Linked DNA regions of Homo sapiens. The protein of the gene in region 1 interacts with the protein of each later gene in a biochemical or structural test. Each region holds a gene or a part of one and is shown in the gene's direction. Other genes may lie near its edges.

Evidence for each region.
Region 2: of the proteins of RGS16 (region 1) and LYN, one has a biochemical effect on the other in vitro, tested with the Homo sapiens proteins (one study listed by BioGRID).
Region 3: the proteins of RGS16 (region 1) and GDE1 form a complex in vitro, tested with the Homo sapiens proteins (one study listed by BioGRID).
Region 4: the proteins of RGS16 (region 1) and GNAI2 form a complex in vitro, tested with the Homo sapiens proteins (one study listed by BioGRID).

The regions. Positions count from the first base shown.
Region 1 is NC_000001.11:182,601,389-182,609,010, reverse strand, and holds the start of RGS16 (regulator of G-protein signaling 16), read left to right. Parts: upstream 1-4,621; 5' UTR 4,622-4,751; coding exon 4,752-4,795; intron 4,796-5,671; coding exon 5,672-5,782; intron 5,783-6,526; coding exon 6,527-6,591; intron 6,592-6,878; coding exon 6,879-7,045; intron 7,046-7,622. UniProt on the Homo sapiens protein: Regulates G protein-coupled receptor signaling cascades. Inhibits signal transduction by increasing the GTPase activity of G protein alpha subunits, thereby driving them into their inactive GDP-bound form.
Region 2 is NC_000008.11:55,945,831-55,952,851, forward strand, and holds part of LYN (tyrosine-protein kinase Lyn), read left to right. Parts: intron 1-617; coding exon 618-663; intron 664-1,787; coding exon 1,788-1,893; intron 1,894-4,628; coding exon 4,629-4,727; intron 4,728-4,850; coding exon 4,851-4,954; intron 4,955-6,135; coding exon 6,136-6,285; intron 6,286-7,021. UniProt on the Homo sapiens protein: Non-receptor tyrosine-protein kinase that transmits signals from cell surface receptors and plays an important role in the regulation of innate and adaptive immune responses, hematopoiesis, responses to growth factors and cytokines, integrin signaling, but also responses to DNA damage and genotoxic agents.
Region 3 is NC_000016.10:19,519,079-19,526,962, reverse strand, and holds the start of GDE1 (glycerophosphodiester phosphodiesterase 1), read left to right. Parts: upstream 1-4,864; 5' UTR 4,865-4,998; coding exon 4,999-5,259; intron 5,260-7,884. UniProt on the Homo sapiens protein: Hydrolyzes the phosphodiester bond of glycerophosphodiesters such as glycerophosphoinositol (GroPIns) and glycerophosphoethanolamine (GroPEth), to yield a glycerol phosphate and an alcohol.
Region 4 is NC_000003.12:50,239,190-50,246,210, forward strand, and holds part of GNAI2 (guanine nucleotide-binding protein G(i) subunit alpha-2), read left to right. Parts: intron 1-7,021. UniProt on the Homo sapiens protein: Guanine nucleotide-binding proteins (G proteins) are involved as modulators or transducers in various transmembrane signaling systems.

The DNA.
Region 1 (7,622 bases):
GGGGAGGGAGGAATGGAGTGAGCAAGAAAGAGAGGATACAAGGAAACAAAACTGCAGAAGACAGAAGGATGACCTGAAACATTGTGCCGTGATTCCCCAAGGATGTGCTTCATTCTTCTCATAGCAAGCCAATTCTGAGTTCTAGAAAATACCACATGGCAAGCCGACGTAGTGTTTGCTTAGGAACCCAGGTCCTGGAGTTGGACTATCTGAAATCAAAACCCAACTCGACCACCTAATAGCTTTGTGGCCATAGGCAAGTTACTTAACCAATCTCTGTTTACTCAACGTAAACAGAGTTTACTCAAATGTAAAATGGGGAAAATATATTACTGATCTTATGAGTGTAATTGTGAGCATTGAAAGAGATACTTCAAGTCAAAGCACACAGAACAGAGCCTGGCACATAGTAAGTGTTCGATAAATGTTAGCTTTTATTATTTGTGTTGAAACAGAAGCCATCTACCCAGCCAACATTTATGGAACATATGCAGAACTGAGCATGGTGATAGGGGCTGAAGATAAAAAAAGATGACCAAGGCAATAGTCCCTGCCCTCCAGGAGTGCACAGAGGAAACAGACTGTACATTGATTCTATCAGTACAGGGCAACAGGGATGGCTCAAAGGAGGCCTGGCCAACTCTGCTTGCAGATGCGGGGAGGGAGGAGGAATTAGGGATGGTATGATAGAATAGAAGGCAGTTGAGCTAGGTCTCAAAAATAGGTAGAAAAGTCAAGAAAAGTCAATACCAATGTATGGTTCTAGGACTTAGGCTAGTGGTCACCTCTGTTTAGGGGAGAAATTTGCTGGAGCAGGCATGAGGAGTGATGGAAGCCATAGCTTGATTACATATTGGTTACATGGGTGTATACATTTGTCAAAACTCATTGAATTGTACTCTTAAGATTTGTGCATTTTATTATATGTAATTGTATCTCAATATATAAGTAAAATCAGTTTATTGAAAAATATTTTTTTAACTGAGTAGTACAGGAAGGGGAAGGACCTTCAGGCCAAGAGAATTTTATGCTCAAGGGTTTGTGGGTATAAGGCAGCATGATGCCCAGGATAATGTGCCAATTGCTGAGTTTGGCTGGAATTTAGGGTGTATAAAGGATATGAGACCAAGTGGTTAGAGCCTTAGATGCCTTACAGAGGAGTCTAGACGTCATCCTCCAAGTCTAGGTTTGGGAGAAGTGGGGAGGGAGGGAAAAGAAGAAACCAGAGAGGACTAATATAGCAGCAAAGCAAGCTGCATGCAATACCCTAAACAGTAATCATTAATCATAGTAAAAGTCATTTCCTACAACCAGGCTGAATTTGGTCAACTTCTCCTACCCAGGAGGAGAGGGTGCCCAAAGTTTTTGTCATGAACCAGTGGGGAAATGTCCCCAGTGATTGCCTATTTCACTTCTGCTGGAGATGATCACTGCCTCCTCATTCAGCTGCTTCAGGATACGCTCTTAAATCTAAAAGTGGCATCCAATTGTGTCCCACAACCCTAAGTGCTTCTGCAGCATTTAATAAATTCCTTAGTCTTTCTGCACCTTTGCTGTACCTGCAAATGATAAGAGCTTTTCCTGTTTCTTTCACTTTCATGCCTCCTCCTACTTCTTCTGCTTTTCACTGGCTACCATGGCTCCATCACTTCTTTTTCAATACTGTCAACCGTCTCTAATCAGCCTCTTCCCTTGACATCTGTTTCTGTGACAAACAATAGTTTCCTTTCACTTTCCCTGCTCCCCACCATGCAGTTCTATTTCCTTAGCTAGATTATAAGGTCCTTGAATTCAGGGAAGAGCCTTAAAAGCTATTGTTTTCCCACCAACTTGGGAATATAGTAAATTCATAAGAAATATGTATTTGTAGATTGATGATTGAATTTGGAGGACCTAAACCACTGTGAGGATCATCTGAGCTAAATCAGAAAAATGGAGGAAGAGTTCTCATTTCTGCTTACCATTATCAGTAGACAAAGATCCCCATCTAGACTTCTGCCTCCATGGAAAGGGTAGTGCTGGGGGCTGGGAGCTGAAGGAGATGAAAGGCAATATGGCTGGGATGCTGTGGGACATTTAATCTTGACTACGGCTTTGCCCAGACTGCTGACCCCAGATGACCCAGGGTGCAGAGCCGTGCCCCCATGCTGCCATCCATTAAAGAGATCACATCTGCTCTGGGAGTGCTGGGCAAAAATGAGGTCAGGTTTTGTCCAAGCCAGTGCAATTCATAAGTGAGCTCAACTTGCTGGATTTACAGCAACTGTCGAGTCATCCTGCATTACCGAAACTGCAGATATGAACCGACCTGCTGGGAAGATAATTTGGGATAAATTGTGAACTTCAAAAAGTTTCTGCCTGGAAACTGAAGAGGTAACCATGGCAACAAAGAGGCAGGTTGAACTTGGAGAGGGCCGTTCATCTAGAGTAGGGAGCTTTGTGCTCTCAGATTTGCTGGTCTGTGCACTGTGCATCAATGCCTTTGTTTTTTTTGCAATGGCGCGATCTCGGCTTACTGCAACCTCTACCTCCTGGGTTCAAGAGATTCTCCTGCCTCAGCCTCCCAAGTAGCTGGGATTACAGGCACCCACCACCATGCCTGGGTATGTTTTTGTATTTTTAGTAGCGACTGGGTTTCGCCATGTTGGCCAGGCTGGTCTCGAACTCCTGACCTCAGGTGATCTGCCCGCCTCAGCCTCCCAAAGTTCTGGGATTACAGGCGTGAGCCACTGCTCCTGGCACCGTTTATTTTGCTTTCTTTATCAGAGCAGGAGAAAGTACTAGCTCAGGAATTGGGAGATAGGATCCAATTTCCAGCTATTTCCTGTTCCAGTACACTTAACTAAGAGTGCCTCAGGTGTACTTAACTAAGAGTGCCTCAGTATACACTGCCTATACTGTATTCCAAGAGGCACAAAAGACTCACTAATTTTCCTTATTGCTAGCAATCCCAGTATCCCTATTAAGTAAAACTGAAAGCTATTATAACATTTATTGACTGCTGACTACATGTTGAGCACTGTCATATAAGCACCTTATATGTTGTCACGGATGCTGTGCGGTGCCACCCAGATCCCGTCTTGGGGACTGTGATCATCATTTCCCAGGGTGTTAGTCTCTCTCCAGGAATTGCTCTTGACAAAGGGCACTGCCTTAAGATTAGGCTGTCTTCTTGGGCAGCTGTATGCAATGAATGGTCTTTATGGGGTTACCAGGGCCTTGTCCTCTTGCTTCAGTGGACAGTTCCAAAGGGCCAGCTGAGCTTCCGGGCATTCCTTGGAACCAGCTGGGGTCTCTGTTGAAATGGCATGGCCTTCAACTCCTCCCTCTGCCCAGACCTGCTTTCTTTACTCCCTCTTAATTCTGATAACTCTCCCCAGTAAACCTCCTGCATGCAAGTGTCTACCCGAGTCTAGTTCCTAGGAACTCAAACTAAGAATTAATTTATTTAGTTCTCACAACCACCTTATGAAATAAGTTGTTCTCTTCGTAGAGACAAGGAAATGGAGGCATAGAAAGGTTAAGCAGTTTGCCTCGTCTCCCATCAGTAGCCAGTTAACAGTGAACGTGGCCTTCCTGCAGCTGGGTCTTCAGCAGGTCACCTGGCAGAGCCATGACTTGAAACCTGAAAATCTAACTCTAGACCCTGTACTTTTAACCTCACATACAGCCTCTTAATAGCAATCCCAATGCCTTTATGGGAAGATGAGGTGAGAGGAAGGGCATTTATTACCTTTATGTCAGAGATGGAGACAATAAGGTATTAACTGCTTAAACCCAGGATCGTCCACAGGTATAGCCGTGACCGGGTACTAACCTTTGTGTGTGTGTGTGGTGTGTGTGTGTGTGTGTGTGTGTGTGTGTGCAATGGAAAAAGAATGGCAAATTCACATTTGAATTTTGGAGCCAACACTTACTAGCTGCACATCTTTGAGCAAGTTATTTAATAACTAAGACTTTGAGCAAGTCTTACTTATGTGCCTAGCACATAGTAGGTGTTCAATAAACTACTCATCCCTATTCCACTTTTCTGTCATCTCCAACTGTGATCTTGGACAAGTTTATTTAGCTTTCTGATTCTCGATTTCTTCATCTATAAAATGGAGATGATGATGAAGAGCTTACTTAGCCCCGTGTCCATCATGGTAAGAGCCTCGTAAAGGGTACTTATCAGTATAATCAGATGCTGTTTTGCCCAGGTTTGCACCCTGTGCGCCTGTCCTCAGGACCCAGCAGGCTCAGACTTGCCTGCGATCAAAGAAAGCCCTGTGTGCCTCCCAGACCCACCACCCCCGTGCAAACTCTCTCAACACGACACCGCTGCGTGACTTTCCTGCTGTTACTAGAGGTCGGCAGGTACTTTTCCCTAGGAAACTGGGTGTGCACGTCTCATCCCCGTGCCAATTCTCTTGCCGCTTTTCCTTCCACACGCGGCGTCCTCTGGGCGGAGGGTGCAGCTCCGCGTGCTCCAGCTGCCGCGAAAGTTGCACCCGGCCCAGTCTGGCTGCGGGCCCCGCCTCCGCCTTCTCAGCGCCCAGCCCCACCCTCCGATTGGTCAGCAGTGCCCAGCCCCGCCCCGCTCCTCCGAGGGGATTTAAAGCAGCGGCCGCTCAGTCTGGGCGCTTGCAGGCTGCTAAACCCAACCGCAGTTGACTAGCACCTGCTACCGCGCCTTTGCTTCCTGGCGCACGCGGAGCCTCCTGGAGCCTGCCACCATCCTGCCTACTACGTGCTGCCCTGCGCCCGCAGCCATGTGCCGCACCCTGGCCGCCTTCCCCACCACCTGCCTGGAGAGGTAAGGGGAGGTTGTCCAACTGCTTGGGGGAAGTCCCACCAACTCTTAGGGAGTGGAGCGGCAGGCCTGGGGACCTGGGTGGGCGCGGGGATGGGGCGCTAGAGGCTTGAGTAGAGAGGTAGAAGCGCACTTGATGCCACGTGCTCAGATTCCAGGAGCAGGGAGAAAGCAAGGGGAAGGGAAGCAAGGGCCCGCGGCTTGCTGCCATCCCCATCCTCTGACAAACTGCAGTCGTGCTCAGGTGACCTGCTGAAGACCCGGCTGCGGGAAGGCCACGTTGACATTTCCAGGCAGCACTGAGCCTGCCCATTTCTTAAGCATTTGTTTTTCATTCCTCAGACCAGAGCTAGGGGCATTGCCTCCTCTGCCCCTGGAAGACAGGGAGATTTTTTTTTTTTTGGTGGGGTGTGTGGGGGTGGGGGCTCCCACTGTTGAGGGTGTGTCCATATTCCAGAGAGCTACTCAACAGCTTCCAATCCTTACTGGCTGGGAAGGAAAAAGTAAAGATGAAGGCAGGAATCAGTTTCCCACACAGTTCAGAAATACTTCTGAAAAGAATGCTGAGTTCTTTTCTGAATCAACAGGCACGAAGAGAGATCAGTGTGACTTTAGGGAAAAGCCCATATATGCAGCGTGTGTATTACCCAGAAAGTGTAAGACCTACCACAGCATAGCTCAAACATTGCTTTTGTTGCTTTGGGGTTGATGATGCTGATAAGAGAAGCACTCTTGGCCTGGGGACAGCCAAGAGTTTCCAGGAACTCTTGAGGCTAAAGTTTGGGTGGCACCACCCAGAGCTCTTCTGGGACCCATAAACCTCTCCACACTGGCTGAGCAAATGAGAGAATGCTTTCATGTTCCTGATTTGTTTTTCAGAGCCAAAGAGTTCAAGACACGTCTGGGGATCTTTCTTCACAAATCAGAGCTGGGCTGCGATACTGGGAGTACTGGCAAGTTCGAGTGGGGCAGTAAACACAGCAAAGAGAAGTAAGTGTTGCTGACCAGCTCAGGGCTCCGAGAGGGAAGGGAGTGGGAAGGGAGTCATGAGGAGGGAAATACAGGGAGAAGCCAGGACACGCTAAGTGGACCTTGGCAACACCTCCCTAGAGATTTTAGTGGGACTTGTTGCTGGTCTGTTATGACTACTTGGCTCATGGGTGAGTGGGTAGGTGGCTCCAGGGCTCCAAGTCCATCCACGGATGAGGGCACACAGGGCATGAATGCCTAGTTCCCAGACTCTCCCACCTCGGGATTCATTGCACGTGCATCCAGGGCTAGGACAGAATCCAAGACCACTTGAAGTTTTCTAGTATGCACCTTGCCTAGAAACTCTTTCATATTGGCTATCAACTGTACCAAACTCTGGAGTTATGTGTAGATGTAATCTCTATTTATGAGGACCTTATTTCCTTGGGAAGGTGTACAAAACAAATCTTTGAGAGTCAGGGGAATTGAAATAATTTTTGGACAGAGACGAGACAGGCTTAGAGATATTGACTGAGGACTAAAGAGTCCCTGGCTTTGATTTCTGGTTGCTGAATTGTGCTCTAGAAAGCACTACTGCTTACCCTAAGTCCAACTAAGAGTTTGAGGTGTCAGCTTCAGCAATCACCAAGCAAGCCTTTCTGTGAATTTTATGCAGTTTTCCATCAGAGTTCTGGCTAGAATTTGTACTATGCTTTGGTTTGTTGATTTTTTTTCTTACTCTTTTTTTTTCTTTTTGTCTTTTAGTAGAAACTTCTCAGAAGATGTGCTGGGGTGGAGAGAGTCGTTCGACCTGCTGCTGAGCAGTAAAAGTGAGTAGGAGCCTTTTGTGTCTGTCTCTGGGTGGCACATGTGTACTCATGTGCTTTGGAGCCAGCCCCAGGACTGCTGAGAGCCTGGGCAGAATAATAGTAGTAGTAATAATAATAATAATGATCCCCTAGTGTGCCAGCCTCTATTCAACATATAAAGGCAGGTCATTGTTCAAGAAAATTATGTTCTAAAAATAGAGCCATTAATTGCAATTGCTTTCCTTTCTTCTTGTATTCCCTGCTGTCCCTCCAGCTGACCTATTTCCTCTTCTTTCCCGCAACCCCAGATGGAGTGGCTGCCTTCCACGCTTTCCTGAAGACAGAGTTCAGTGAGGAGAACCTGGAGTTCTGGCTGGCCTGTGAGGAGTTCAAGAAGATCCGATCAGCTACCAAGCTGGCCTCCAGGGCACACCAGATCTTTGAGGAGTTCATTTGCAGTGAGGCCCCTAAAGAGGTTAGAGCCCCCATATGCCCAGTGAATCCTCACGACCCTGCCTGCTCCTTCCCCTCTGAGAATCAGGGCTAGAGGGGAGGAAGGGCTAGGTGTAGAGGTAGAAGGGCCTTACTTGGCACAGGGGTGACTGGGCTTCTGTGACCAGAGACTAGGAAAGCCAGGCCCAGTGCCACTCCTGGGTGCTTAACCCTAAGACTCATGATGGGGCAGGATGTGTTGGCAGGTTTTTCGGCTTCTGTCCATACCCACCTTTATAAACCCATCCGTTTTTAGAGGCTCAAAACACTTAGCAACTGGGGAGACAAGGTCAGCACAGGGACCTTATGTAACCTGGCTCAGTCCCCAGGCTGACCTGCCTGAGGCCTGCTGGTCTGTGGTCTGTGATTTTTTTGTCTACCTTCTCTCCTGGCCGCTAAACGCATGGCAGCTGCATTTGCTAAAGAACACAGCGCCACCTGGTGGAAAGATAAGAGTAATGCCTTACTTTTGTACCTTATTTTTGTTTTCTGACCGCTGATTGATTCCACATAATTCTGTAAAGGTGTATTGAGCCCCAATTATATTCAAGACACTGTTA
Region 2 (7,021 bases), on another chromosome or scaffold:
GGGACAGAGCCCTGACCATGCAATTTTATACAATTGGGGAAGCCTCAGATGGGCAGTCCCAGGCTGGGACGGCAACTCCACGAAATCACCAGGGTCCCACCTCTTCCGTCTCCATCCTGCTGCCGCTGGTGTTTGCTTTCTATGTGAAGACTCCAGCCTTCACTTGTTTCTAGGGAGAGAGAAAGAGGCAAGGGAAAAGGGGAGCTGACAGCAAAGCCCTGCACAACCGATCTGCGGACCAAAACTCCCTCTGCCCTCTGCCCGGGGCTAGAGAGTTTGGAAGCACACTCATTGAGCTGGGCAAACTGCCACCCCAAATAATATTAGGGCTCTGTCACCAAAGAAGAGGAGGAGCTAGGATGAGGTGAGCACCTGGCACCTGCCCAGAACCTCGCTCCCTTCCTGCCACCCACAGCAAGTGATAAAGAGCCCTGTCACTGGCCAAGCAGGGCAGGATGCACCTCTACAGGTTTTTCCCTCTGTGCTCCTGTTCTTTCTGACTTAATAAATGAGCCCATCCTAACATCTGCTACTGTTACAAAAATCATATATACAACACGAATGTGAGTAAGAAAAGCTAAACAGAATTTTTTTTTCTAACAAATATTCTCTCGTAGGTTCCAGAATCTCAGCTTTTACCTGGACAGAGGTTTCAAACTAAAGGTATGTTTTCATAGCAACATAGTTAAAATTTTTTTTCTTTACTATTAGAGCTTCTATAAAGTGATTGTCCTAAATGTTTTTATTTTTTTTTATTGTGGGACATATATAACATAAAAATTTACCCTCTTAACTATTTTTAAGTATACATTTCAGCAGCATTAGGTACATTCACATTGTTGTACAACCAATACCGCCCTCCATCTCCAGAATGCATCTTCTCAAACTCCATACCCATTAAACAATAAGTCCCCATTGCCTCCTCCCCCAGCCGCTGGCAACCTCCGCTCTTTCTGTCTTTATGAATTTCACTACTCTAGGTACCTCCTAGAAGTGGAATCATACAGTAATTGTCCTTTTGTGTTTGGATTATTTCACTTAGCCTGATGTCCTCAAGGTTCATCCATGCTGTAGAAAGTGTTAGAATTTATTTCCTTCTAATAGTGAATAATATTTCCTTGTAAGTATATGCCCTGGCCGGGTGCAGTGGCTCACACCTGTAATCCCAGCACTTTGGGAGGCCAAGTTAGGTAGATCACCTGTGGTCAGGAGTTCGAGACCAGCCTGGTCAACATGGTGAAACCCCGTCTCTACTAAAAACACAAAAAATTAGCCAGGCGTGGTGGTGGGCGCCTGTAATCCCAGCTACTGGGGAGGCTGAGGCAGGAGAATAGCTTGAACCCAGGAGGTGGAGGTTGCAGTGAGCCGAGATTGCACTATTGCACTCCAGTCTGGGCGACAAGAGCGAGACTCCGTCTCAAAAGAGAAAAACCAAAATGCTACATGATGTTTATCCATTCCTCCATCAATAGATGTTTGCATTATTTCCACATCTTGGCTATTTTGAATAATCCTGCTGTGAACATGGGTGTATAATTTCTTAAATATAGAGTTGTATTTATAGTTTTAGTTTTAAGTGATTTGCAAGAACAAATACTGGACACAGTGTATACAGCAAGGTACTCTCTGTGGGCCGTGCAGACCCTGAGCCCACTAGGCAGGAAGCACATGTCCTTCTTCCAGTTGCCCCCTCTTAGTGCTTCCTCTCATCCTTTGTGCCCCATGAGGTTTGTTAAAACGCTTCTGCTGATGGATTCTTACAGGTGTTCTCTTGTGTTCATCTTTAGATCCAGAGGAACAAGGAGACATTGTGGTAGCCTTGTACCCCTATGATGGCATCCACCCGGACGACTTGTCTTTCAAGAAAGGAGAGAAGATGAAAGTCCTGGAGGAGTAAGTGCTCTCAAGCACGCCACGGCTGCTCGTTTCCTCAGGCCACTGAGTCCTGCAGGCTGTCCCCTTGTCTTGCTTCTGGTGCTACAGCCATAGCCCGGCCCCTTTCTTGTAATGGGTATGAGGCCTCCTTGCTACCCACAGGGAGTGGGCAGTGGAAGGAATAGAGCCAAAGGGATTTTCCTTTTAAGTCGGTCTGTGAGCACACTTCAGGGGGTTTCCCTTTGAAGACAGACAGTGGTTTTTCTTTAAAACAATTTTTTTTTTTGAGATGGGATCTCTCTCTGTCATCCAGGCTAGAATGCAGTGGCATGATCATAGCTCACTGCAGCCTTGAACTCCTAGGCTAAAGCAATCCTCTCACCTCAGCCTCCTGAGAAGCTAGGACTACAGGCATGTGCCACCAGGCCTGGCTAATTTTTAAAATTTTTGTAGAGATGGGATCTTGTTATGTTGCCCAGGCTGGTCTTGAACTCCTGCTGTCAAGCAATTCTCCTGCCTTGGCCTCCCAAAGTGCTGGGATTACAGGTGTGAGCCACCACACCCAGCCTGGTTTCTTTCTTTATCCACTCTTGCCACCTTAAGAAATTTGGGTCTGTGTGGCCCATGCATGATACTTGAAATGTCACTTTTCTTTTGTTATATTACTCATGTTTAGACTGGGTTCATGGGCCCAGCCTAGCTTGAGTTCTAAGGGTACTGAGCTACAGCAGCTGTGTTGGGAAATTCTCAACTCAGCAGCTGCCATGCTTTTGTGAGGACGCCTGAGTGTCGTCATCTCCTCAACCCCCTCTTGCTGACTCAGACATGTGGCAGTGTCAGACCATAGGCATGCAGGACAGTGCTCAGAATAAGAAACTCCAGTTGCTTTAATTCTAGCTTGCTTTTCTTACTAATCTTGCATTAAATGTCACTGTGACCTGCCAAATAGGGTTTGAGGGGGAGACTCCCTTATTAAGGACAAGGTGTTCCGTGGTTGAGAGCAATGTTGCATATGGGTTGAACAGGGACTTAAGCCTGATCCTGGCCCTGCCACTTGATAGCTGTATGACCTTGACAAGACCCTTAAACTTTATACCTTGGTTTCTTTACTTATAAAATGGGAATGACAGTACCTAGATCATGGGGTTGATGTGAGCATGATGCATGTGTTTAAACATGACATAAGCAAAGAGGATGCAGAGCTTAGTATTAGTTCTAGTTGCCTTCATGCCTTACAGACAAGGATCCTGTCTGTGTGTGGAATTTATAGAGGAATGCAGTTAAGGCTCAAAGGGACCCATTCCTTCCCCCATTACCAGCTTACCTGCTTGCTTCTTCCAGTGCTCATCCCTGCCTCCTCCCTGGCTCCATGCCTGCCTTTCTGCTGAGGACTCGAGCATGGTGCTGAAGCTCACTTGCTTGGAATTGTCTTATGGTTTTCTTCTTTTCATAGTGTCCATCTCTATGATAACTAGATGTTTGAACAAAGGAGTTTATAATGCATGAACTGTGGACCAGTATTCCCTTGACTCTCATTTCTATAAGGATTTGAAAGCATTTCTTAGCTATCCTGGGGCAAGTTACAAACCTTTTGTTTCTGTGAGATGGGAGCCATTTGTACCAACTCTTCTTTGTGCACCCCTGATCGCAGTGATGCGTGCTTTAGTTGTAAGGCTGTTTTCCTTTGCTTCTGTCTCTAAACATATTTTAATTCCATCACGGAGAGTGAATTTTCCCACTGGATTCTGGGGTTCCAGAGATGTTCTCCACCCGCCTTCACCATCCTAAACAAACATCTTGAGACAATTGCTATTGTAGCTGTTGAGTCTTGGATATAAACACTTTTTTCCTTTTATTTTTAGTTGACATGGAATAATTATATGCAGTCATGGGATACAGAGCGATATTTTGATACATGTATGCAGTGTGTACGGATCAAGTCAGCGTAATTAGCATATCCATCATCTGGAACATTTATTCTTTCTTTGTGTTGTGAACATTCAAAACCCTCACTCCTGGCTTCTTTTCTTTGTCTCTCTCTCTCTCTTTTTAATAGCTTTATTGAGAATTCACAATACCATACAATCCATCTACTTAAAGTGTACAATTCAGTGATTTTTTTAGTATAGTCACAGAATTGTGCAATCATCACCACAATCCATTTTAGAACATTTTAAATACCCCAAAAGGAAACCCTGCACCCCTTAGCTGTCACCTCAACTCTCCCATTCTCTGCAGCCCTAGGAAACCACGAATCTACTTTTTATCTCTGAAGACTGACCTATTCTGGATATTTCACATAAATGGAATCATACAATATGTGGTCCTTTTTGACTGCCTTCTTTTATTTAGCATAATGTTTTCAAAGTTCATCCCTGTTGTAGCATCTCTCAGCACTCCATTCCTTTCACTGCTGAGTAATACTCCACTGGATGGATATTCCAGATTTTGTCCATTCATCAGTTGATAGGCATTTTGGTTGTTTCTACTTTTTGCTTTTACAAATAAGGATGCTTTGAACATTCATGTACAAGTTTTTGTGTGGACATTATGGTTTCATCTTTCTTGGGTATATGTCAAGGAGTATAGTTGCTGGGTCCTGTGGTAAGTCTATGTTTTCTTTATTTTTAATTTTTTAATTGATATGTAATATCTGTACATAAATACATATTTATGGGATATCTGTGATATTTTGATACATGCATGGAGTATGTAATCTTTTAGCTTCTTTTTGATGTGTATTTCTATTCTAGGCATGGAGAATGGTGGAAAGCAAAGTCCCTTTTAACAAAAAAAGAAGGCTTCATCCCCAGCAACTATGTGGCCAAACTCAACACCTTAGAAACAGAAGAGTGAGTCCTCATGTGTTGTCATCTTGGTGGCTTTATTTGCCACATTGGATTTCTTGTTAATATTCTTCACCTTTTTCTTGCCGTGGAACATAATATGCAGGAAATGTTGAAATGTCTTCACAGGTGGTTTTTCAAGGATATAACCAGGAAGGACGCAGAAAGGCAGCTTTTGGCACCAGGAAATAGCGCTGGAGCTTTCCTTATTAGAGAAAGTGAAACATTAAAAGGTAGGAAATTGTTCAAAGCCTCTTTTAAAACACTATTTAGGAAATTATTTTTAGAAACTATTCTAGAGCTACTCAAGGGGAAAAAAGGGCATATAGTATGCTCTGGTAGTAAAAGTTTTATGGTTTGATAACAAATAACAAACCTCAGTGATTAGTTGTGCTACTAAAAGTAATATAGTTGAGTGTGGTGGCTCACACCTGTAATCCTAACACTTTGGGAGGCTGAGGCGAGAGGATCACTTGAGTCCAGCAGTTAGAGACCAGCCTGGGCAACACAGCAAGACCCCATCTCTACAAGAAATACAAAACTTAGCCAGGCCTGGCAGCACATGCCTATAGTCCCAGCTACTCTGGAGGCTGAGGTAGGAAGATCACCTGAACCCAGGGAAGGGAGGCTGCAGTGAGCCGTGATCACGCCACTGCACTCTAACTAGCCTGAGTGACAGAGTGAGGCACTGTCTCAAAAAAAAAAGAGAAAAGAAAAGAAAAGTACTGTAGAAAGCACACATGATTGTGGCCAGTTCTTACCAGGCTTTGTTTGCTGAGCCTTTTGCATTATTATTTGAATAAATCCTGAAGTTTTAAGACAAAGAAAATTAGGCTGGGCGTGGTGGCTCAGGCCTGTAATCCCAATGCTTTGGGAGGCCGAGACTGAGAATCACTTGAACCCAGCAGTTTGATACCAGCCTGGGCAACATAGCAAGAGCCTGTTTCTATAAGAAATTAAAAAATTAGCCAGCTGTGGTGGTGCATGATCGTAGTCTCAGCTACTTGAGAGGTTGGGGTAGAAAGATCGTTTGAGCCCAAGAGGTGGAGGCTGCAGTTAGCTATGATTGTGCCACTCTACTCTAGCCTGGGTGACAGAGCAACAACCTATTTCAAAAAAAAAAAAAAGAAAATCAAAGTAACTTAAAAAAATTTAAATGTAGCTAAATAATAATTTTAAAAAAATTATCATGAAGAAAGAAAATGGTATGTTGGCAAGCTACACAGCAAACAAAATGCCAGCTTCATTTGTCAAGTAGAATTTTTATAGGACTTTTAAAATTATGCATTTTATACAAATTTCATAAATATATGTATTTTGCATATTTGTATCACAAAATGTGTACTGCAGTTGTTGTATAATGCAGATCTTATTTGTGAGATATAAACATTTACTTACACTTTTCCCCCCATAGGAAGCTTCTCTCTGTCTGTCAGAGACTTTGACCCTGTGCATGGTGATGTTATTAAGCACTACAAAATTAGAAGTCTGGATAATGGGGGCTATTACATCTCTCCACGAATCACTTTTCCCTGTATCAGCGACATGATTAAACATTACCAAAGTAAGTAAAAACTGAAGGTTCAACAAGACAAGATATATTTGTTATGATATGTATAAGACGTCAAACGCTATTTTTATATTAAAACTTTTTATGCATCGTATTTCTCTTAGATACAGTTGCAGGTCATATTCTATAAGTGGTTCTAAATTAATCTATAGTTAGGCCAGGCACAGTGGCTCACGCCTGTAATCCCAGCACTTTGGGAGGCCAAGGCAGGTGGATCACTTGAGGTCAGGAGTTCGAGACCAGCCTGGCCAACCTGGTGATACCCCATCTCTACTAGAAAAAAAAAAAATTAGCCAGGCATAGTGGTGCGTGCCTGTAGTCCCAGCTACTCGGGAGGCTGAGGCAGGAGAATCACTTGAACACAGGAGGCGGAGATTGCAGTGAGCTGAGATCGCGCCACTGCACTCCAGCCTGGGTGACAGAGCAAGACTCTGTCTCAAAAAACAAATACTAAAATAAAAGCAATTAATTAATCTACAGTTAAATACACAAAGTAAGATTTGATCCTTGTGAATAATTCTCCCAGTCCTTCCCACCTAGTACATGCTGTTTGACATTCAGTGTTCCACAATTACCAAGAGAAAAATATATATTGTCTTTGCATATATTTTTACAATGCATCTGAATATCTGGAATAGGAATGCAGATTTGCAGATCTGTGTTTGTGTGTGTGTGTGTAAAAGTAATGTATATTCTTGGTAAAGTCAAACGGATATAACACTACCACTGA
Region 3 (7,884 bases), on another chromosome or scaffold:
AAATAAGCAAGGGAAAATAAAAAGACATTATCAGAATCATAACCAGCAAGGGTATGAACTATGGAAACAGAAAATAGAATACAATCATGTTCCTTTATGTCTTCATTTTAAAATAATTAGCTTCTTAACAAAAAAAGAGAGGGCAGGGAAATTCAATTCATGATGTGGGATATGCAAAGATGAAATAGGATATGTCCTCGGTAGGCCTCAAAGTACTTAAAAATTCAGTACACCAAAGTATCAGGGACAAATTATAGTGCAATGAGAAATGGGAAAAAAAAAATAGTCAAAATTATAATCAGGTTATAAAAAAATAAGATATAATGCTATTTTTTCTAAATAGTTTAATCAATAACAAAACTTCTTCCTACTATTCAATCAATTGTAATTATTTGTGTTCAATCTATGCAAAGTAGGAATCTAATGACAAACAAATGGTTCTCTACAGTGTGAGTGAGACTATTTTACAAGCTTTTATTTATTTTAAAAAAGCAAAAGTAAAAACAATAAAACACCTTAAGGCATAGCCTTTTTTTAGGTCTAGGTTTCAACTCACATTATTTCTTAACCCCATTTCTGCTCAAATATTTTATTTTTTTAATCATGCCATGCATTCAGCAATACACAGAATGTAAATAGATTATACAAATAAAGTAATATATCTTCTATGGATACTCAAGCAAAGCATGAAATTCAATTTTAGAAGTGAGGGAAATTATTAAGGAAATATAATACTTTTATGGCCATAGTTTTATTTTTCTTTCAACATCATAGAGCTATGCCTCATTGTTTCAGAAAGTTATTCACATCCCTTAAATAGTACATATATGTCCTATATCTTGCAGATGTATAGTACTATATTATTATTACAGCACAACACAGCATATGACAACGCATTACTCATTCAAATATGAGTGCTAATATGGAGATTATACAAATTACTAGATGATCCTTAGAGCATGACTGGATCCTTCTTATTCTTCAGTCTCGGCTTGGATATCCCCTCCTCAGAGAAGGCATCCCTGATGACCCCATCTAAATGAACTCTGCCTCTATCACTATCACATTACCCTGCTGTTTCCCAATTTTCATAGCACTTACCACTATCTGAAATTATCGTGTTTATTTCCTTGATTTTTGTCTGTCTTCCTCCACCAAAATGTAAGCGCCATAAGTACAGGTACCTTTTCAGTCTTGTTCACTGAATCCCCATTACACAGAACAGTATCAGCACACAGCAGGCACTTGATAAAAGTATTGAATAAATGAATAAGAATAATAATAAGCTCAAACAATAATGTAAACCAGAAGAAAAAAAGAAGGCGGACTATACACCGAAGCTAGCAAGGAAGAGTGGAATTTAGAGAATGGAAATTTCACCATGGCTCTAGTCCCAGAGAAACTGGTACCTCTTAAACTGCAAAGGTAACCATTTAAGAAGTGAGCAGTCTGTATCCCATGATTAAGCAAGAGGACACTATGCCTTTCACACTACAATTACCACTGTCAGCAAGGTTTTATTTTAAGGGAGCCCTGACTACAAGGCTACCCCAGCCACAAATCTACTGCTCTATATCTTGCCATCAGGCATCACTGGTCCACTTCCAGTAATAATTTGTCAGCTACAGCAGGTTCAGACATGCCGTCTTCTCCATTTATACCACAGAGAACCACTGACCCTTGTGCAAATGAGCCTCTTTGCAAACCCCGTAGACTCATGGTCCTATCTGCTCCTTACCCGTGCTCTGCCAGACATGTCACTGAAAAGAGTGGTAAAAGTAACACAGAACAGATCCTGCTTTTTTTTTGCAGAACCTAGTGTTTCTTTGCCCATCAGTTCCGCCAAAGACGCAAACTTCTTGTAAAAGCGGTAAAGGGGAAGATTTCTTATTCAGATGCGTACTAGCTGCAAGTTCTTGGCAAGCCAGTTACCATCCCCACACCTGTTTCGTCCTCTGTAAAAGAGGGATGATCACGGTATCCGTCTCAAAGGAATGTTGTAAGAATTCAATGAGCTAATGCATGTAGGGCAATTAACGTAGTGCAGAACACGCAGAAAGCAACAAATAATGGGGACTGCTTTTCTTATTAAGAGGATAATGATGATGACGATTTTTAGCAGTAGAGTATGAATTCCTGGAGGGCAGCGACAGTGCTTGGTTCCCCGTAGGTTTCAAATGAAACTGAAAAATATAGAAAAGGGGACAACGGCTTCCTCATTTCCCTGTCCCTAGACCTCTCCCCGTCAAATCAATCTCGAGATGGCTGCCATTTGCCTAAACTGGGGGTAGGGAGCTTGGATCGTAACCAGAATAGAATCAAAGGGTGGGAACCATCTAGCAGCTCCAGGGGCAATCGATTACTTTATTATCCTCAAGTTTATGCCCCAGAGTGGCAAAGGCGAAGTAAGCAGCGCTCCTAGGGCCTTGGTTGTGGAAACAGGGGCTCATAAATGGCCAATGCACACCCCGGGGAAGCCTCCCTCTCCAGCACCGTGGGAGGGAGAAGAAAAACGGCCCAAACAATTTGATCACCACGATGGGGTTCTCCGGCTCTGGCCCGAGTTTTATTCACCAGGGACGGCCCCCTGCCCTCTCCCCAGCGCCCCATGCCCACCTCCTCCAGCTCCTCCGATTTAAGACTCCAAACCGAGGGCCCTCCAGGCGGGGCCAGCATCGGAGCATCACCTCAGCGCCCGGTGCTGGCTGCCCCCGGGGTCCCGCCTCCCAACAGCCGGCGCCTTTCCAGGGGGCTCGAGGCCCGGGAGCCCAGCACAGAGCCCGCCCTCAGCTTCTCAGGGCGCCAATTTCGCCTCGCCAGACCACCTCTCAGCCCGGACCCGTCAAGGCTCAAGCCCCCTCCTCATGCACACACCTGATCCCCCACGGCCCCTTCAGCTCCTCTCCCCTCGCCACGGGCCTTGTCAGGAAGCGAATGGCTCAAATGGTACTGACAGAGCGCAGCTCGGTCCGCCGCCGCCTTCTCCTCCTCCTCCCCGCCATATTACGGATCTCAGGCTGCAACGCGGGCTCCTGGCAACCGCCGCCGCTGCCACCCCGACTCCACCTCTCAGGGCCGGCACTTCCGGTGGTTGATTCCCGGGCTGTTAAAACCGTTGGGCCACCAGAACACTACCATCCCCGAGGTGCATTGCGCGCCCGCGATGGAGGACGTAATGCTTACGGCCAGCACGCTGCACGCCGGGAAACGTAGTCTTCCTTGCAAGCTAGAGACTAGAATTTATTAATAAATTTACTTATTTAGTAGAATAGGAACACCCCTCAGGGTCTGAAGCCCCCTGAAGTGTTCCTTGAAGTTGCCATTTTTTTCTTATCTGTATAAAGATAACCCCTTTCTATGCAGCCGTTAGAAAACATGTAACATTCACCAAAATATTTTCTTGTAGGTAAAAACTTGCTGAACCCACCGGGCGTGATGGCTTACGCCTATAATTCCAACATTTTGGAAGCCGAGGCGGAAGGATCGCTTGAGCCCAGGAGTTCGAGATCAGCCTGGGCAACAAAGGGAGACGGCATCTCTACAAAAATTTTAAACGTTAGCCGGGTGGGGTGGCGCGAGCCTGTGATCCCAGCTACTCGGGAGGCTGAGGTCGGAAGATCGCTTGAGCCCAGGAGGTCGACGTTGCAGTGAGCCATGATTGCACCACTGCATTCCAACCTGGGCGATAGAGTGAGACTGTCTGAAAGAAAAAAAAAAAAAGGCTGAATCCTAGATGCCAACTGGAAGGCTTAAGACATCTATCCCCTTTTGCAAATCAGTGGGAAAATGCACTAAAGGAAAAAAAGGTAACAGAAAAATCCCTGAATATTTTTGCAAAGTTCTCTACATAAAAATGTTACCAGCCCTCCAAAATATGTCCAGGGGCCCCTTTTCACTCCCTAACTCGGCTTCATGGTCTATCTCTCTTACCCTCCTTCCAGTGCCTGTTTTTGCATATGTAAAATGGGGGTTTTAAAAGTGCCTATCACAAGGGTGGTTGTGAGGCACAGTTGAGGTAACTCCTGTACAGTGCCTGGTACAAAAGCCCTTAGCAGAAGTAAGATTAGGGGGAGGAGGAGTGAAAATGTCACAAATCACTGGGGAGGCCTTTATGTCAGTCCCCACCCTGCCATTAACTGCTTAATTCACCTATCCTCAGTTTCCGCATCTATGAAATAAGGGAATCCTTAAAACCCCTTCCAGTTTTATAATCCGATTGTGCCTTCTTTGCTAGGCTCTTCCAGTCCCCCAGAATCTGGAAAATAAAGTCGATTGAAATCAGTCTCCTGATAGTAACTGTTAGGCTGTATTGAGAATGAGATAAGCATATAAAGTGTTTGCTCGTCAAGTACCTGGGACATGGTAAGTGCTCTGTAAACGTTAGGTGTACTTGCTAACTTTTATTTCCTCCCACAAGAATGTGAATCCCATAAGAGCAAAAACCCTGTAGGTCCTGTTCAACTGTGTCCGGAGCACCTGGACCGGTATTTGGCACATCTTGAATTGAACTGAACTGAACTGAATTGAATTGAATTGAATTGATAGTCTAAGCATCCTGCCTCTCCAGGTTCCCTGGAATTCAGTTTCCTCAAGGGCAGATAAAGGAGTCACTAAAATCCCTTCCAGTCCTACAGCTTTAGGATGGTTCTTATCCCTCCTTTTCTCGCCTAGGAGTCTGAACGCCCAGGTTGAAGTTCAGACCTCGGAAAACCCTAACCCACCTTAGATTTGGAACGTGAGCCTGGGGCCTGGGGCCTGGGCCCTCCCCCGTTGCCATGGAGCGGCTCCGCCCACTGGCGCTGCGAATCCCGATCCCTGATTGGCTGGGCGGCCGACTCCCTCTCTGGATGTGTCTGCTGCCGCCATTGTGCGGCGCTGGTCCCCTCAGAGGGTTCCTGCTGCTGCCGGTGCCTTGGACCCTCCCCCTCGCTTCTCGTTCTACTGCCCCAGGAGCCCGGCGGGTCCGGGACTCCCGTCCGTGCCGGTGCGGGCGCCGGCATGTGGCTGTGGGAGGACCAGGGCGGCCTCCTGGGCCCTTTCTCCTTCCTGCTGCTAGTGCTGCTGCTGGTGACGCGGAGCCCGGTCAATGCCTGCCTCCTCACCGGCAGCCTCTTCGTTCTACTGCGCGTCTTCAGCTTTGAGCCGGTGCCCTCTTGCAGGGCCCTGCAGGTGCTCAAGCCCCGGGACCGCATTTCTGCCATCGCCCACCGTGGCGGCAGCCACGACGCGCCCGAGAACACGCTGGCGGCCATTCGGCAGGTGAGACCCCCACGTTCGCGCCCCTCGGTCCTCCCGAGAGCTCGGACTTCTACTTTTCCTTCCCAGGGTTCCCCGATCTTCTCAGGACGGCCTTCCCACTTCCTCATTCGTCCACAAGGCACACTCCCGGCCCTTGATCGCTCCCAGTGTCTAGGGATCTCCGGACTTGAGGTTTTATATTTACAGAAGACAGCAGATATGTATATAGTTTCTGTGCGCCTGACGCTAAGGTTACATACAGCCAGGAACAAGGTCAAAAGTGTCCCTGGTTTACAGAGTGTACATCGGAATGGGGGAGGCAAGCCTTAAACAAGTAAACACATAAATGAGATAACTTTAAGAGAGTGAAAGGTGCAATGAAGAAATCGGGGGAACTCGAAGGAAAGAGTTACGCTATTTTATTTAGATGGAATAGTCAAGAGAAATCGTCTCCGAAGAAGCAACATTTGAACAGAAACCGGAATTATAAGGAGCCAGGCAGGTGCAGAAGGTCCTGAGATGGGAATAATATAGGGGTGTTCAGGTAACAGAAGAGGCAGTGTGTGGCCTGACTTCAAGGAAGAGAACAAAGACTGGTGTGTGAATGAAGTAGAAAATGGGTCAGGTCAAATAGGTTCTTGGTCAGTAATTGAGGTTAGTCTAAATAGATCACCCTTCACAAGACATACGTTTGCTTGTCTTGTAAATCACTTGAGTCATTTCCTTATCACCTTTTCCCCAGACACACACATTCGCACTCGCACAACCCTGGCAGCTGGACTCACATCAGTTTCTGCCCCCTCCTTTTCACAAGGCACTCCTGAAACTTTTGATACCTCCCAGCTCTTGGCATTCTCCTAGCTTCATAATAATGACAGCTTACAGAGAGGGCTTTTCAGTGGATTAGGCACTTTTGCATCTGTGTAAATATATCTGATTCTCTTCTTTTTTATTTTTCTCTCTCTTCTTCCTTCCTTCTTCTTCTTTTTTTTTTTTTTACTTTACAGAGTCTCACTCTTTTACCCAGGCTGGAGGGCAGTGGTGCAATCTCCACGCACTGCAACCCCTGCCTCCCGTGTTCAAGCGATTCTCGTGCCTCAGCCTCCGGAGTAGCTGGGATTACAGGCGTGTGCCACCACGCCCAGCTAATTTTTGTATTTTTAGTAGAGATGGGGTTCTGCTATGTTGGCCAGACTGGTCTCAAACTCCTGGCCTCAAAGTGATCCACCCGCCTCGGCCTCCCAAGGTACTAGGATTACAGGCATGAGCCATCATGCCTGGCCTCCCTCATTTCCTTTTTTTTTCTTTTTTTTTTTCTTTTTTTTTAAACGAAGTCTCACTGTCTCCCAGGCTACAGTGCATCGGCGCAACCCCAGCTCACTGCAACCTCTGTATCCCAGGTTCAAGTGATTCTACTGCCTCAACCTCCCGAGTAGCTGCGATTACAGGCATGAGCCACCGTGCCCGGCCAAGATTTATACTTTTAAAGCTGCACTCTGGCCCATGTGGAGAATGTACTGTGGGTGTAATTTCATTCCTTTGCCACTGTTTATAGTAGTGTATCTGTTTTTGGAATACACTCAACTCACATTTATCAAGTTTTTCCTTCTATATCTCATTTATAATCTACCAGAAATTCTAGCACTGTCAGAAATGTATATATGTATGTATACATTCGACTTTACCAATAATTTTATTTATTTATTTATTTTTGAGACAGGGTCTCTCTCTGTCACCCAGGTTTGAGTGCAGTGGGGCGATCTCAACTCACTGCAACTTCCACCTCCCAGGTTGAAGCGATTCTTGTGCCTCAGGCTCCCAAGTAGCTAAGATTACAGATGTACTCCTCCACTCCCAGCTAATTTTTGTTTTTTGTTTTTAGTAGAGATGGTGTTTTGCCATGTTGGCAAGGCTGGTCTCAAACTCCTGACCTCAAGTGATCCACCTGCCTCAGTGGATTACAGAGTGCTGGGATTACAGGCAAAGTGCTGGGATCACAGGCATGAGCCACTGCCTGGCCAGCTTTACCAGTACTTCTATGTTATTCCAGTAATTGAGATAAAAAGATGAATCCCTGGTTCTAATTCACATATTAGTATATATAGGAGATATTGCAAGTTCAGTTCCAGACCTGAGTAAATAGTCAATAAAGCAAATATAGTAATAAAGGGAGTCACAAATTTTTTGGTTTCCCAGTGCATATAAAAGTTATGTTTACACTATATTGTAATCTATTAAGTATTGTGTATGTATATATATATATATATATATATATGCACATACACACACATATATAGGTTTTCATCCATGGTTCCTGGCTCATAACTCTCAGCCCTTGCTACAGTATTTTGTTAGGCATCCTAGGCCTTAGGAGCAGGCCTTGGGAAACAGAATCTCTCCTGCCCTCCTTTCACCTACCCCAAGGCAGGACTGGAATCTTTCCCTGTCTTTCAAATTGTGAGTCTTAAGACCCTCCTCAGAGAGGGACCCCACCCTATACCCTGGGGGAAGGAATGCTGACATCATGAAGCTTCCATAAAAACCTAAGAGGAATTAAAAAAATAAAAACTAAAATAAACCTAAGAGGACTTGAAGCCAATTGGTCAGAAGTTCCATAGGCCCCAGCTTGCTATTTGTGTCTGGAGG
Region 4 (7,021 bases), on another chromosome or scaffold:
GATTTGGGATGGGCCTGTGTGGACAGCTTCACAAAAAAAGGAGACAGTGTCCACCATTGGCTCCATAAAGGCTTCAGAATGTAAACAGAGCAGTTCTCTCTTGCCCCTGGAACTTTGTGTGTGTTGTTCCCTACTTGATTGTTCTTTAAAACTTTACTCTGGGATCACCTCCCAGGATCCTTCCTGGACATCCTCCCTCGACCAAGGCTGGTGAAACATCTGGCTCCCAGCGCTGTTGCTTCCCCCCTCAGATGCCTGGAGACTGCAGGGCAGGGCTAAGTCCTCTTCATTTCTGTGCCCAGCATGGAGCCTGGCATCTACTGGGTGCTTCTCATCTGTTTGTTGAATGAAGGAAGTATCCTCTGAACCTGATTTTGGGTAGATGGTGGAGTAAACTGAGCGGCAGTTTGCATACTGTGGGCAGGTGGCAAGGGCCCACAGGCCCACCACAGGATTGGTGACCAGCATTGAGGGGACACTGAGAAAAGTTCTTCAGGCTGTTTCTTCCCAGCCCCGCCACAGGCTATGCTGGCACCTGAGAGAGTTCTTATCCCACCCTGTGCGGAACTCCTGCTGAGCAGAGTGGCTTTGTATTCTTCCTTCCAACTCAGGCTGTTGGTGCACTGCTAGAGGGCTGCTGTCTCTGACACTGCAGTAGCCACAGTCGAGCTTGAGCTGGCTGGTCCAGCAGGGGCTGCTCCGCAGCCCTGGGGCTCAGACCAGAGCAATGCTGTGAGAGTCCTGGTACTGGCCAGTGCAGAGACTGCACATAGCAAGGGCTCAATGAAGTTTACCAAAAGAAAAGAAAGGGGGTTTTGTGGCCTCTGTCCTGTCTGTGTCTCTTGCAAAGGGCTGGCATACTATAGATGCCTAATGAGGGTATATGGACAGAATGAAGTGATTGAACATGTCCATGAACAGGGCAGAGCTCCTGGGAGAGGAGTAAGTATAATCCTGGGGCAGCCACTGGAGCCTGGTCTAGCTAGAGACAGATAGGAAGGGTTAGCTTGGGATTCTGGCTGGCTGGGTAGTGAGTTAGACTCTAATGGTGCCTGTGAAGGGGGGCTTCCTGGAGGAGGGGGTCTGCTGGGCAGCTGTGAAGGATGAATACCATTTGCCAGGGCCAGGCACTGGGGGTCAGAGGGACCAACTCGACAAGAACACTGCAGCAGGAAGACTTGGCCTGTATTCCCAAGAGCTTGGGTGGGTGTTTCCTGGCCTGGTGGGGAAAGGGCCACCCTCCCTGGACCAGCCCATGGGGTCATCCAGACCTGAGTTCGAATCCCAGTTCCACCTATGGCACTGGCTGAGAGACTCAGCATCAGGTGAAGCCCTGGCAGGAGTCCTGCTCTCCACTCATAACCTGGGGGCAGAGTGCCTCCCTGCAGCCACAGGTTATGGGGACAGTCTACCAAAGCTTGGAGGTATGAAAAATGGGTGAGGGAGGCCAGGCGCGGTGGCTCACACCTATAATCCCAGCACTTTGGGAGGTTGAGGCAGGCAGATCACCTGAGGTCAGGAGTTCAAGACCAGCCTGGCCAACATGGTGAAACCCCGTCTCTACTAAAAATACAAAAAAATTAGCCAGGTATGGTGGTATGTGCCTGTAATCCCAGCTATTCGGGAGGCTGAGGCACGAGAATCGCTTGAACCTGGGAAGTGAAGGTTACAGTGGACCGAGATGGTGCCACTGCACTCCAGCCTGGGGGACAGAGCAAGACTCTGTCTCAAAAAAAAAAAAAAAAAAGAAAAAAAAAGAAAATGGATGAGGGACCCACTGCTGAGAGTTTGGTGGGAAGGAGTCTCCCATCCTAGAGGCTGCCTGGCCTGGGTTTGGAGCCCTAGGGAACCCCCTCCCCTGCCCTCAGGCAGCTGTTCACAGCAAGTGGGGAGCCCAAGGCGTGCAGATAGTTGGTGCCAGCAGGAGTGACAGACTGCCCTGGGGACCTTAGGCCCAACCTCTGGGGGTCTAGGTTTGGAGATGTGGTAGGGCCCTGGGTGCCAGGTGGGCCAGTACCCACCCAGGCTGGCCTCCAGCCCCTACACTCTACCCCAGCCCTCTCCTTCACTGCTGGAGCTCATTAGCACTTGAATGGGGGGCGGGGCGGCTTGGGCCTCTGAGTCTCTTCTTCCCACCCCTCCCCCAGGCTTGTCGGGGCTTTGTCTGCAGGAGCAGGCAGGGATAGAGCTCCCACACTAAGGAGTGAACAGGGGTCCAAGCTATAGCTGACCCCCTCTGCCTGCATCCTGCCCAGTTCTGCTAGGCTCAGCCCCTGCCTCTCACGCCAGTGTCAGTGCAGCCAACATGAGGTCATACCTCTAGGGTAGGAGTGAGACTAGGTCCTTTAAGGGATACCTCTGAGCTGAGAGACTAGGTGAATCAGGGCAGCTGGAGCTCAGCTGGGGGCATCCCAGGCGGGTTGGGGAGAGGAACCCCAGACAGAGGGCAGAGCAGGTGTGAGGACAGAGAGAATGAGCCGCGCTGCTGTGGCAGGAGGTGGAAGTCAAACCAGTTGCGGGACACAGGCTTCCATGTCAGAAGCCCTGAGGCAGCATCACACCACCCACTATGTGTCAGAGCCTAGGCTGCTGGATGGGGCCTGGGGATGGTCCGGGACCCCTTTGGCCCTGGGCAGCTTGTCAGCGGTTGGCCCTGGGTGGCCTGAGAGGTAGGGTCACTGAGTGCCATCACTGATGTCCCAGGCCCTTGAACATCAGTTTGCCTGGCAAGTGGCAGCAGGTAGTGCTGAGGGTGGGGTGTGGTCAGGTCCCAGCAAGGTCCCTAGGCCTCCAGCACTGCAGGGGGTGGGGCAGTAGGTGCACTTGGGGCTACTTGGGCCACAGGCAGACACACAGGTCCTGTATACTCTGCCGTTGATCTTAGTTCTTGGTCCCTGGCTGTGACTCTCTCAGTCTGTCTCTAAAAGCCACCCATTCACTTGGCGGGAACAGGATGGAGGAAGCTTTGTCCACCCAAGCTCTTAGCCACTGAGGAACCAGGGACTCCCCCCACCCCACCCACAGCAGAGGAGGAGACTGTCACCCCAGAGCCTGAGTGCTGCCTCCCCTACATCCCGTTGTGCTGTGGGGGGAGGCAGGACCGGGCAGATGGGGGCAAGGTACAGGCCAGGGAGTAGTCTCATCTTCCCAGCATCTCAGGCCAGGAATCCCAGCCTAGGAGTTGAGCGAGGAGGGGAAGGGGTCAGCAGGTTCTGGCCAGGCCACTGCTGATACACCCTGCCTAAGAGTGCTCTGCAAGGTGCTTTGGGGAAGGCAAAGGATTGGGCCCTTTGATGGTGTCCCTGGTACCTGATGCTCTCAGGCAGCCCTTCCCTCAGCTACAGGTGCAGGGTGGAACCCCGTCTGCCCAGCCCCACCCAGCCCTTCTAGCTTGAAGCTCTCGTTCTTACTAAACCCCAACCCCACCCTCACCCTGATGTTACTTCTTGGGGCTGTGGCTGCTCTTGGTGGCTGGGGAGGAAGAATCTTTCTGGAATAACCAAACATTTGCTGGGCTGGTTCTTCTGTGCCGGCCTCTGTGCACATTTACAAGGCTTGAAAGGCAGCACCACACCAGTCTGAGCAAAGGCCTAAAGGTGGGGTCATCTCAGCCTTGTTGGGGAGAAGATATCCTTATGGCTTGGAGGAATCTGGGGGCTCCAAGGCTGCTGACAGCCTCAGGATATGCAAAGGAGGTGATGGCAGCACCTACTGTGTGTGCCCCCGGCGGGAGGAGGAGGTAATGAAGTCTGCACGACATGGCAGGGCAGGGCTGGGCCTCTCGGGGAAGTGGTGTCCACACCAGAGGAAAAGGAGGAAGCAGCTGGGGGAGGAGGAGCCCAAAAGAGGAAGAGGCCAGAGGGCTGCCTGGTGCTAGGGTGGGGGTGAGAGCCCAAGGGCCCCCCAGGGCTTTGCCAACTGGAAGGGTCTAGGAGGTGAACACCTGCCCAGGCTTATCTTTGCACTCCTGTGGGCCATTCTAGTGGCGGTCACTGAGTTGGAGCCAGTCCAGGTAGCTCTGTACCTTGTCCCACCCCAGCAACCATCGGGCCCAAGATCCCAGAGAAGGTGGTGCCTTCGAGAAGGATTCCAGGCCCCTTCTTTGGCCACAGGAAGTTGTGGCTGGGAGAAGGACGCTGGCGGGAGGGCTAGCAGGAAGGCAGAGGGCTGCTCTTAGATTCCCGAGCGGCCATTGCTCTCCAAAGCCGGAAGGCCAGCCACAGGCTGAGATGAATGCCTGGAAATGCAGCAACAGCCCCGAGATGAGCTCACTCTGGGTTTCCCCTGCTGGGGGGCGGACAAAGGATCCCTGGCCTCAGCCTAAGGATTCTCCCCTACCAGCACCCACTCACTGGGTCTAGGGCTGCATTCACTGGGCCTGTTTCCCCTCAGGTGATAACCACAGCTGTCTCTGATTGAGCCTTGACTGTTGTGTGGAGCTGAATTCTTCATTATCTTGTCATATTTAATCCTGTGAGGCTGGGACTGATATTACACCCATTTCACTGATGGACAAACTGAAGCTCAGGGACTTTATGCACTTAAACAGGGAACAGAGATGTCAGGACATGACCCATGTAGTGATTAAGCGCCTGCCTCCAACTGCCATGGCCCTTTGGGAGTCTGTGCTGGCTGGAAGTAACGGATCAGGCAGGACAGCAGGCAGACGGTGTGGGTGCGTGTGTGTTCTGCCTGTGCCTATGGGCCCTGGCTTTCGGGCCTCAATTCTTCTTTTAGGAGGCGGAAAGGGAGCTGTCTGTCCTGGAAGGTGGGACCCAAGACTCTGTGTATGAAGCTTTCTACAGCCATGTGGTCATGGGGGACCCCCTCCACTCCTTTTTTTTTTTTTTTTTTTTTGAGATGGAGTCTCACTCTGTCACCCAGGCTGGAGTGCAGTGGCATGATCTCGGCTCACTGCAACCTCCGCCTCCTGGGTTCAAGCGATTCTCCTGCCTCAGCCTCCTGAGTAGCTGTGACTACAGGTACGTGCCACCACGCCCAACTAATTTTTGTATTTTTAATAGAGACGGGGTTTCACCATGTTGGTCAGGCTGGTCTCGAACTCCTGACCTCAAGTGATTCGCCTGCCTCGGCCTCCCAGAGTGCTGGGATTACAGGTGTGAGCCACTGCGCCCGGCTGCAGCTGCACCTTTTGACTTCCCACTTTTTCTCCTAGTCCGTATCCTCTCACAGTGATGCTCAAGTTATAGCTGGCAATTTAGGACTTCATTCTTTCCCTAATATTATGCTTGTTCTCCCATAAGCCCCAGTCTTAGACTGAGACCAAGCCTGGGGAAGGCTCAGAAGCTATTGAAGTCCATGGTGAGGGCCTCTGAGACTGGGAATTGTCCAGAGGAGTGAAATGAAAGCATGTTCCTTAGGGCTGCACTGTGAGCACAGGCTCAGTGCTGGGTGCACGTACGGTACTGTGTGGTGGTAGAATGTGGCCATGGTGTTGGCTGATGACTGCATGATAGTTGTTGAGGCTGGTTCCTCTTGCTCCTTGGCCTCCGAATCTCAGTGCTGTGGCCTAGTGGGGCCTTGCCCTCTCTTGTAGGGGTTCCTAGGGGTTCTGCTGTGTTGCCAGGCCAGGCCGTAAGGGACTGAGGGGGCTGAGGAAGGCTTAGGAGAGCCAGAGCAGAAGCGTCCAAGCCTCTCTGGGCCATGAAGCCATGCACAGAGCAGAGACCCGTGCATCCTCATGGCCACCCAAGACTGTGGGTCCCAGAGGGTCCAGTTCCTCACCATGAGACCTCAGACTGTCCTCTTCCCTCTCTGTATCCAGCACTAGAATCTGTGATGCTGTGATTTTTTTTTTTTTTTTCTGAGACTGAGTTTCGCTCTTGTTGCCCAGGCTAGAGTGCAGTGATGCAATCTCGGCTCACCACAACCTCCGCCTCCCAGGTTTAAGTGATTCTCCTGCCTCAGCCTCCAGAGTAGCTGGGATTACAGGCATGTGCCACCATGCCCGGCTAATTTTGTATTTTTAGTAGAGACAGGGTTTCTCCATGTTGGTCAGGCTGGTCTCGAACTCCTGACCTCAGGTGATCCGCCCACCTCAGCCTCCCAAAGTGCTGGGAATACAGGCGTGAGCCACCCCGCCCCGCCAGTGCCGTGATTCTTAGCATGGTCTCCTGGCCTGTGGACACAAGGACAGCTGCTGGCTTGGGTTGGGCCCTGAGGCAGTTTGGGGTGACTTTGAAGAGGCTACTCAGGGCAGGCCTTGGGTTTGGCACCCTCCCTCAAGGGGTACATTTCATAGATGAGGCCTAGGCTCCCGTTATCTTTCCCAGAGTCCACCGCCATGAATCAGAAGGGAAAAGAGGTCATTCAGGTGCCTTGGGAACAGCGGAGGGATGCCTGAAATGAAGAGGCCTCCAGGGAGACGGTGCCAAATGGCCCAGCTCCGCGTGATCCGCGTCTTGTCCAGCACCTCCTGGCTCCTGCACAGGCGGTACCTGGGGCCTGAGGCGCCAGCGATGAACAGGTCTGGGGCCTCCTTTATATCAGGCCAGCCTTCCTCACCCGGTGCCTGAGTTTCCCTCTGTGCAGTGGAAAGGGCCCCACTGAGGGAGACACACCTTGCCCCAGAAAGACTTTCCCATGTGTGGGCAGGACCTGAGGCCTCAGTTTCCCTAACACAGAGATCTCTGACTTGGCAGTAGGAAGCCAGGCCCTGCTTGGTAGTGCTCCCCTTTGGGCACTGTGAACCCCTGGAAGCCGCTGGAGGCAGCCGAGTGCCAGAGACTGGCGGGAGGGAGGTGTGGAGTCTGTTGGTCTGTTCAGGCATCCGTTATAGGGCCATGCCACACACATGGGTGGGAGTGTTGCCGGTCCCTTTCAAGACCTCGAGTCCCTGCCTCCCAGTGCCGGACCCGTGCTGAGCCTTCTCGGAGGGAATGAGGGGGGCCGGGGAGCAGCACCTGGAGGAAGGAAGAGACGCCAGGGGCGGGGCTCAGAGGGCCTTTGTCTGGCGGGGTCTCTGCCCCTCCCTCCCGTTGCCATGGTTTCTGTGTGTGCC